2 linked regions of the Homo sapiens genome follow. The protein of the gene in region 1 purifies or fractionates together with the protein of each later gene. This does not show direct contact. Each region holds a gene or a part of one and is shown in the gene's direction. Other genes may lie near its edges.

What was found.
Region 2: the proteins of JRKL (region 1) and CEP83 purify together in Homo sapiens (affinity purification with mass spectrometry; one large-scale study listed by BioGRID and IntAct). This does not show direct contact.

Annotation. Positions count from the first base shown.
Region 1 is NC_000011.10:96,388,775-96,393,130, forward strand, and holds the start of JRKL (jerky protein homolog-like), read left to right. Parts: upstream 1-1,238; 5' UTR 1,239-1,299; exon of another isoform or gene 1,300-1,708; 5' UTR 1,709-1,875; coding exon 1,876-3,450; 3' UTR 3,451-4,356.
Region 2 is NC_000012.12:94,453,252-94,457,069, reverse strand, and holds part of CEP83 (centrosomal protein of 83 kDa), read left to right. Parts: intron 1-3,818. UniProt on the Homo sapiens protein: Component of the distal appendage region of the centriole involved in the initiation of primary cilium assembly.

The DNA of each region.
Region 1 (4,356 bases):
TCTACCAGGAGGGATCCATTCTTGGGTGTAAAACATCACTCCTCTTCGATGTTTTCTTTTATATGGCAGTTTGGAGAGCAAAGATTAATAAGCCGAAAAATAATTATTGAATATCTACCAAAATGCAAGCACCTGCTAGGAACTGTGCTGCCACCATTTCAAATAAACATGGTCTCTGCTCCCAAGGAGCTCACAATCTGATGAAATTACTAGGGACACCAAAAACAAGCCAGCATAATACACGATTTGAGGGCTACAGTGTATGATTAAGATCAAGTTCTTATCACACTGCTATGAATAAATTTATCATAGTTCTTCTATTGGCAGGAAAACAAGACAGAACATGACAGAAATAGGATATAAGAAAATAAACATAAAGAGAGGAAAGCCTATTTCCCCCACTTAGAATCACAGTCCAACAGTCCACAATTTCGCAAAGTGGATCCTGCCAGCATGGTATCCGGGATAACTATATTATTCATTAAAATCCGTTAACAATGAAGGTTAATGCAGCAGGAATGAGTGGTAGACAGTGGAATAGATCCTCTCAGGAATTAACACCCGGAAGGGTGACTTTCATGATTACAAACCTCTTTGGCGGGACGCAGGAACCCAGCGCCCGCTAGCCCACTAGTCCGTCACTCTGCCTCCAGGAGGGAGGGGCACAGTAGCTAGGAAACCGGACCCTCAGGCCAAGCTTCGCGATGACGCGCGCAGGACGACGGAAACCCCCAGACCCCAAAAGAGCTCTGCACCGAGAAAACAATTACAAGGGTCTGGAAAGGCCAGAAACCCGAGAAATCACCAACCGAGCTCCCTACATCAGTTCCAAGCACCTCCCCAAGGCGGAAATAACGGGCACCGCGCCCACTGCAGCTCAGCTGAGGAGGGTTAGAGGCGCAAAGGGCTGAGGGGCGTTCTCCGGCCCACCCAAAGAGCGCCCGCGGGAATTTTTCTCTTAGTCCGCGAGGAGGCACGGCTTCCCCCGCCCCTCTCATAAACCATTAGCACCGGGAGCGCGAGCGAGTCCCAGCCGGGAGACAGCCCCGCACCGCCCTCGCGCTCTCACCTTTCAAAGCGCCTCCACCTCTGCCTCCGCCTCCGCCCCTGCCCCGGCAACCAGCTCAGGACAAGCGATGCTCCTCCCCCCCTTCCGGGGACCAAGGGAAGTCCCGCCTCTGGGTGGGGCGAGGGGTGGGGCCAGGCGGCGGGAGGGATCATCTTCCGGGAGCGTGGCTAGGGGCGGAGCGACTGCCGCGCGATAGTCAGGGAGCTGTGCGGGTCCTGGTTGCAAGAGAGGTGGGGAGAGGGGCCTGGCGGGTTTTGAGGGACTGGGAGGACTGTCCCGGCTAAAGCTGGCGCGGGAAACTGGGGCTGCGCGGCGGGAGGGCCCTGCTGCTGGGGAAGGAATCTAATATATCCGTTCCCCTGAGGAAGGGTGCCAGTCCTTGACTCCTAGGCTCTTCGGCTCTCTGTCGTAACTTTGGGGTGTGGCAGGGGTTAGTGACGCGCGGTTACCCGGGATCTGGACGTGCAGGAGGTTCGTGGCCACAATGGGGGTATAGTCTTTCTCACGGCTGCTGGGGTAATAAAACACATGCTTTTAATCCGGATTATCCGCGGTGACATGGGGCCTCCGCTACTGCCCGTATAAGTTAAAGAAAGGCCTGTTCTCTCAAACTTCCTCCTCTTTCACCTTCTTCTGCAGTCTATTTGCCAGCCAACCCCAGCCCGGGAGGGGATCAGGGCCACCAGGTTGCTGGTAAGGATGAAAGACTGAGTGTGTTAAGACTGTTGAAGTGAGCCTGTGTAAGAGAAGGAAGGATTTTGTGGATTGCTACATTGTGAGTGTGGGGTGAGTCCCAGAACCTCGCTATGTCAGGGAAACGGAAGCGTGTGGTGTTGACTATTAAAGATAAGCTTGATATAATAAAGAAACTTGAAGACGGAGGTTCTTCCAAACAACTGGCAGTGATTTATGGAATTGGTGAAACAACAGTTCGGGATATAAGAAAAAATAAGGAAAAGATTATAACTTATGCAAGCAGTTCTGATTCCACAAGTCTTTTGGCCAAGAGGAAATCTATGAAGCCATCCATGTATGAGGAATTGGACAGGGCAATGCTGGAATGGTTCAACCAGCAAAGAGCAAAAGGGAATCCCATATCTGGACCAATTTGTGCAAAAAGGGCAGAGTTCTTCTTTTATGCTTTGGGAATGGATGGTGATTTTAACCCCTCTGCCGGTTGGCTAACTCGTTTTAAGCAGCGGCACAGCATTAGAGAGATTAACATTAGAAATGAAAGATTAAATGGAGATGAGACTGCGGTGGAAGATTTTTGTAATAACTTTCGAGATTTTATTGAACGAGAGAATTTACAGCCTGAACAAATCTACAATGCAGATGAAACTGGACTCTTTTGGAAGTGCTTGCCTTCTAGGATTTCAGTAATCAAAGGTAAATGCACTGTCCCTGGGCACAAATCAATTGAAGAAAGAGTCACAATCATGTGTTGTGCCAATGCAACAGGTTTACACAAACTTAAACTTTGTGTTGTGGGGAAAGCAAAGAAACCTCGCTCCTTTAAATCAACTGACACCTTAAACCTGCCAGTCTCTTATTTCAGCCAAAAAGGTGCATGGATGGATCTTTCCATTTTCCGACAATGGTTTGATAAAATTTTTGTGCCGCAAGTTCGAGAGTATTTAAGATCTAAAGGCTTGCAGGAAAAGGCTGTGCTCTTGTTGGATAATTCACCAACACATCCAAATGAAAATGTCCTAAGGTCAGATGATGGCCAAATATTTGCTAAATATTTACCACCTAATGTGGCCTCATTGATTCAGCCTTCAGATCAGGGAGTCATAGCAACGATGAAGAGAAATTATCGTGCAGGTCTTCTCCAGAACAACTTGGAAGAAGGTAATGACCTGAAATCATTCTGGAAGAAGCTAACTCTGTTGGATGCACTTTATGAAATAGCAATGGCATGGAACTTAGTAAAACCAGTTACCATTAGCAGAGCATGGAAGAAGATTCTCCCTATGGTAGAGGAGAAAGAGAGCCTGGACTTTGATGTTGAAGATATTTCTGTGGCTACTGTGGCTGCCATTTTACAACACACCAAAGGATTGGAAAATGTGACTACTGAGAACCTTGAAAAATGGCTTGAAGTAGACAGTACTGAACCAGGCTATGAAGTGTTAACTGATAGCGAAATCATCAGAAGAGCACAAGGCCAGGCAGATGAATCCAGTGAAAATGAGGAGGAGGAAATAGAACTAATTCCAGAGAAACATATTAATCATGCAGCTGCCCTCCAGTGGACTGAAAATTTATTGGATTATCTAGAACAACAAGGTGATATGATTCTACCTGATAGACTGGTAATACGTAAACTTCGAGCCACCATCAGAAATAAACAGAAGATGACAAAGTCAAGTCAATAATGTCATTTCAATTTTATTGTTCTGCTCATTGTGTTTGTGACAAACTCTTTGCAATATGGCTTAATTTTCTTTGTGTTCTGAATTCTCAGACTTGGTCCTGTGAAATACAGGCACAAAATGTATCTGAAGTGGTTTGAGGATTATGTGTTTTCATCATCTGTGTCTTTTGTCCTTTTATTTGTACAGATAATCAGAAGATGATACTGAATAGATATAAATTACATGTACACATGTATTCACTTTTTAGAATCTGCAATTATACCTTCTGTAACAGTGGCATTCCCTTAATTTTCTAGTGAAAGTTAGAGATAACTGAACAGACTGAAGCACTTTTCTGAAATCTTTTGCTTGATTTATGAAGGCTGCCATAGTTATCTTTTCTTGTGTTAACCATCTTAAATGATGTTTTGTATATTTTAATAGACTGATAGGATGAGAAAGATTTATATTATTAGATTTCAGGATGATTTATAATAATTCAAAAATGAAATTCAATAATGGGGAAATAATTATGAATTATAGAAATTATGCCTTCATTCTCTTACATTTGTGTGGGTTGCAAGAGGGGGAGATTATTCTGGAAATGAAGTAAATATGGGAAGTTATTGCCAAATGAGAGAGAAACTATGGGAAAGCTGATCTATAAAGAGGCATTCTGATCAATTCATTTGTAGGAAACTGGGAAATAAAAACCTGGGGAACTTTAGGTTATTTATACAAAGGGAATAAATAGGCTGATTTTAATTTGGTAAGTTGATCTTTTTATTATGAATTTGGTAATAGTATAGGTTTATTATTTATTCATCTAATTTTATAGTACAGGTTTTGTAATGTTACATGTGATGATATGAGCTCCCACCTTATATGGGGGAACATCTTGGGAATTTGAGATTTAATAAGTTTTTT
Region 2 (3,818 bases), on another chromosome or scaffold:
CCTTCTTTCTTAAAATCTAAATTGTACCTTTTCTATAAGGTTCAACTCCACCATGACCTCATACATACATACATAGGAATAGTATGTATTTGTGAGTTAAATTTATTTGATACTTATACTTTTTATTGTATTATTTTAGCTTTCTTGACTTCCTAACTAGATTGTAAGCTTATTAAGGGCAGGACTTCAGATCTCGATGAGCTGTATCCTTAGTCTTTTCCAAATACAAGTTGCTGAATAAATGTTTCTTAAAGATGACTGATATGATTAGGCTTTGTGTCCCCACCCAAATCTCACCTTGAATTATAATCCCCATAATCCCCATGTGTCAGGGAAGAGACCAGGTGGAGGGAATTGGATCATGGCGGCGGTTTCCCCCATACTGTTCCTCGTGACAGTGAGTTCTCATGAGATCTGGTGGTTTTATAAGTGTTTGGTAGTTCCTCCTGCATTCATTCTCCTTCCTGCTACCTTGTGAAGAAGGTGCCTTGCTTCCCCTTCACCTTCTGCCATGATTGTAAGTTTTCTGACGCCTCTCCAGCCATGTGGAACTGTGAATCAATTAAACCTCTTTCCTTTATAAATTACCCAATCTCAGGCAGTTCTTTATAGCAATATGAAAATGGACTAATACAATGACAGATAGGCATTTCTACTTTCCCCCACTTTTGTAAGTATCATGAAAGTAAGGTTGTTGAGAGAAGAGAGTAAGTGAAGGGGAAATGGCAACAGTAAACTATAAAAAAGATTGAAGAGTGGGAATTCACGGAATCAGAAATAAAGATTCTGTTCCTAGAAAGTGAGTATTTGAGAATTTCCCATGGCAATACCAGCAGTAAGGACTCTCAGGAATGCTGGCACTATTCTTCAGTGGGCTTGGGGAGTTTGGTCAATTTCCTGGTTCCTAGTAGAATATCAGTTTATTAATTATATTTTTTTCATCAGGACTGCCCTCTCTAGGTCATGGAGAGATCACTGACTGTCAAGTCTAGTACTATTTCTTTTTTCTTTTTTTTTTTTTTGAGATGGAGTTTTGCTCTGTCGCCCAGGCTGGAGCGTAGTGGTGCAATCTTTGTTCACTGCAACCTTGAACTCGTGGGTTCACGTGATTCTCCTGCCTCAGCCTCCCAAGTGGCTGGGGCTAACAGGTGCATGCCACCACACCTGGCTTTTTTTTTGTATTTTGAATAGAGACAGGGTTTCACCACATTGGCCAGGCTGGTCTCGGAACTCCTGGCCTCAAGTGATTCACCCACCTTGGCCTCCCAAAGTGCTGGGATTGTAGGTGTGAGCCAATGCGCCCGGCCTACTATTTCTTTTAACTGAGCTATAATCCAGGATGGAAGAAATTAAGGAAATGCCCAGTTATTTGCCTTCTGTATATTGTGACTTCAGATTGCTTTTGGATTAAAATTCAGAGTTAGTAGGAACCTAAACCTGGCCATTCCCTTTTGGAAAGCACCTATCTTCTGTCTCAAAATATGTCTATAAAATGTCCATGTAGTTTTTACAGTCTCACCAAAAATCCTGTATCTAATGCTTATAACAAAGAGTTACTTCAGTTGAAGATATAGAAAGTGAAGTTGAGTCTCAGAATGCTTTCATAAATATTCGTTTGATTCAGTTACTTCTTGAGTGAATTTGCCATTCTAGCTTCTGAGTTGTTGCCCAGTAACACAATTGCAGTATAATATAGCAACCCTTGAAAACAGTAGCATTGGACTATAGGGATTTTCCTGATGAAGTTGCATTGCCTATCTCTGATGTTCATATTCAGCCTCTCTCAAGTGTGATTGCATTTTGTTTTAAGGCAGCTATTTCAGATATTGTTAAACTTAAGGGGCATGCAATATATGCTCTTAAGGATATTTTTTAGAGTACTGATGAATTATAACTTCTTTCACATTGTTTTCCACATAGAGATGCATGATAATGTGTCCGGAATTGGTTCATTCTGGTGGGTTCTTGGTCTCGCTGACTTCAAGAATGAAGCTGCGGACCCTCGTGGTGAATGTTGCAGTTCTTAAAGATGGTGTGTCCGGAGTTTGTTCCTTCAGATGTTCAGATGTGTCCGGAGTTTCTTCCTTCTGGTGGGTTCATGGTCTTGCTGACTTCAGGAGTGAGGCTGCAGACTTTTGCAGTGAGTGCTACAGCTCTTAAAGGTGGCGCGTCCGGAGTTGTTCATTCCTCCCGGTGGGTTCGTGGTATTGCTGGCTTCAGGAGTGAAGCTGCAGACTTTCGCAGTGAGTGTTACAGCTCTTAAAGGTGGCGCGTCCGGCATTGTTCATTCCTCCCGGTGGGTTCGTGGTCTCGCTGGCTTCAGGAGTGAAGCTGCGGACCTTCGTGGTGAGTGTTACAGCTCATAAAGGCAGTGTGGACCCAAAGAGTGAGCAGCAGCAAGATTTATTGCGAAGAGCAAAAGAACAGAGCTTCCACGGCATGGAAGGGGACCCGTGTGGGTTGCTGCTGCTGGCTCAGGTGCCTAGCTCTTCTTCCCTTATTTGGCCCCACCCACATCCTGCTAATTGGTCCATTTTACAGAGAGCTGATTGGTCCATTTTACAGAGTGCTGATTGGTCCGTTTTTACAGAGTGCTGATTGGTGCGTTTACAAACCTTTAGTTAGACACAGAGCGCTGATTGGTGCATTTGCAATCCTTTAGCTAGACAGAAAAGTTCTCCAAGTCCACACCGGACCCAGAATCCCAGCTGGCTTCATGTCTCAATAAGTATGTATTGAATTATTTTTTGTGTGAAGGACACGTGAAAATACTGGTTCAATTAAAGATTATTCTGGGCAGAAAAAGTATTATGTAATAACAGACTTCTCTACAACTGATATAGCCAGCCAGAGCTGGAGTGGATGAAGTTGAAATGGTTCTTTATAACATTTTTGTATTACTTCTAGAGCTTCATAGAAAGCTGAGATCACTAAGCACAATTTAATAGGTACTCTAATTTTTTTTTTTTTTTTTGAGACATAGTCTTACTCTGTCAGCAGGCTAGAGTGCAGTGGTGTGATCTCAGCTCACTGCAACCTCTGCCTCCTGGGTTCAAGCGATTCTCCTGCCTTAGCCTCCCAAGTAGCTGGGACTACAGGCACATGCAACCATGCCCAGCTAATTTTTTGATTTTTAAGAGAGACGGAATTTCACTATGTTAGCCAGGATGGTCTTGATCTCCTGACCTTATGACCCACCTGCCTTGGCCTCCCAAAGTGCTGGGATTACAGGTGTGAGCCACTGCGCCCGGCCTAGGCACTGTAATTTTGTGGGAAGAGAATTGTGATTCAGGAGACCAAGGCTTGACTGGGTGAGTCACTTCACCTTTCATGGCCTATTTTCTCATTTGAAAACATAAATCTCTGAAAGTTTCCTTCAGAAATGGTATGCTTCCAATTTAAAGCAAATTTTATTTCTCTTATATATGGGTTTAATCAATATTTGAGTGCCTATTATGTGTCTCATGCTATGCTAGGCACTGGGGAGATTGTGAATAAGACATAGTGCTAAGTCTCAAGCACCTTATTCTCTGATGGGAGAAATGGACAAAGTAATTAGTAATTTGTAATAAAGCATGTTAAATGCTATAAGGATAGATAAGAATGTGTTTTGGGGCATGTAGGAAGAATACCTGGCCTAGAACTAGAAAGAATACACAAAAATTGAGGAATGTCTCTTTAGAATCTTGTAAGTGTAGTTGTAGGGTGTACAGAGCAGTATTCAACTTGGCCCGGAGGAAGTTAGTCAAAGAAAACTAGGAAAACAATTCTTGAAGTTGGAGAGAGAGAAGAGTCATCAACGTTAGTGGTAGTTGAAA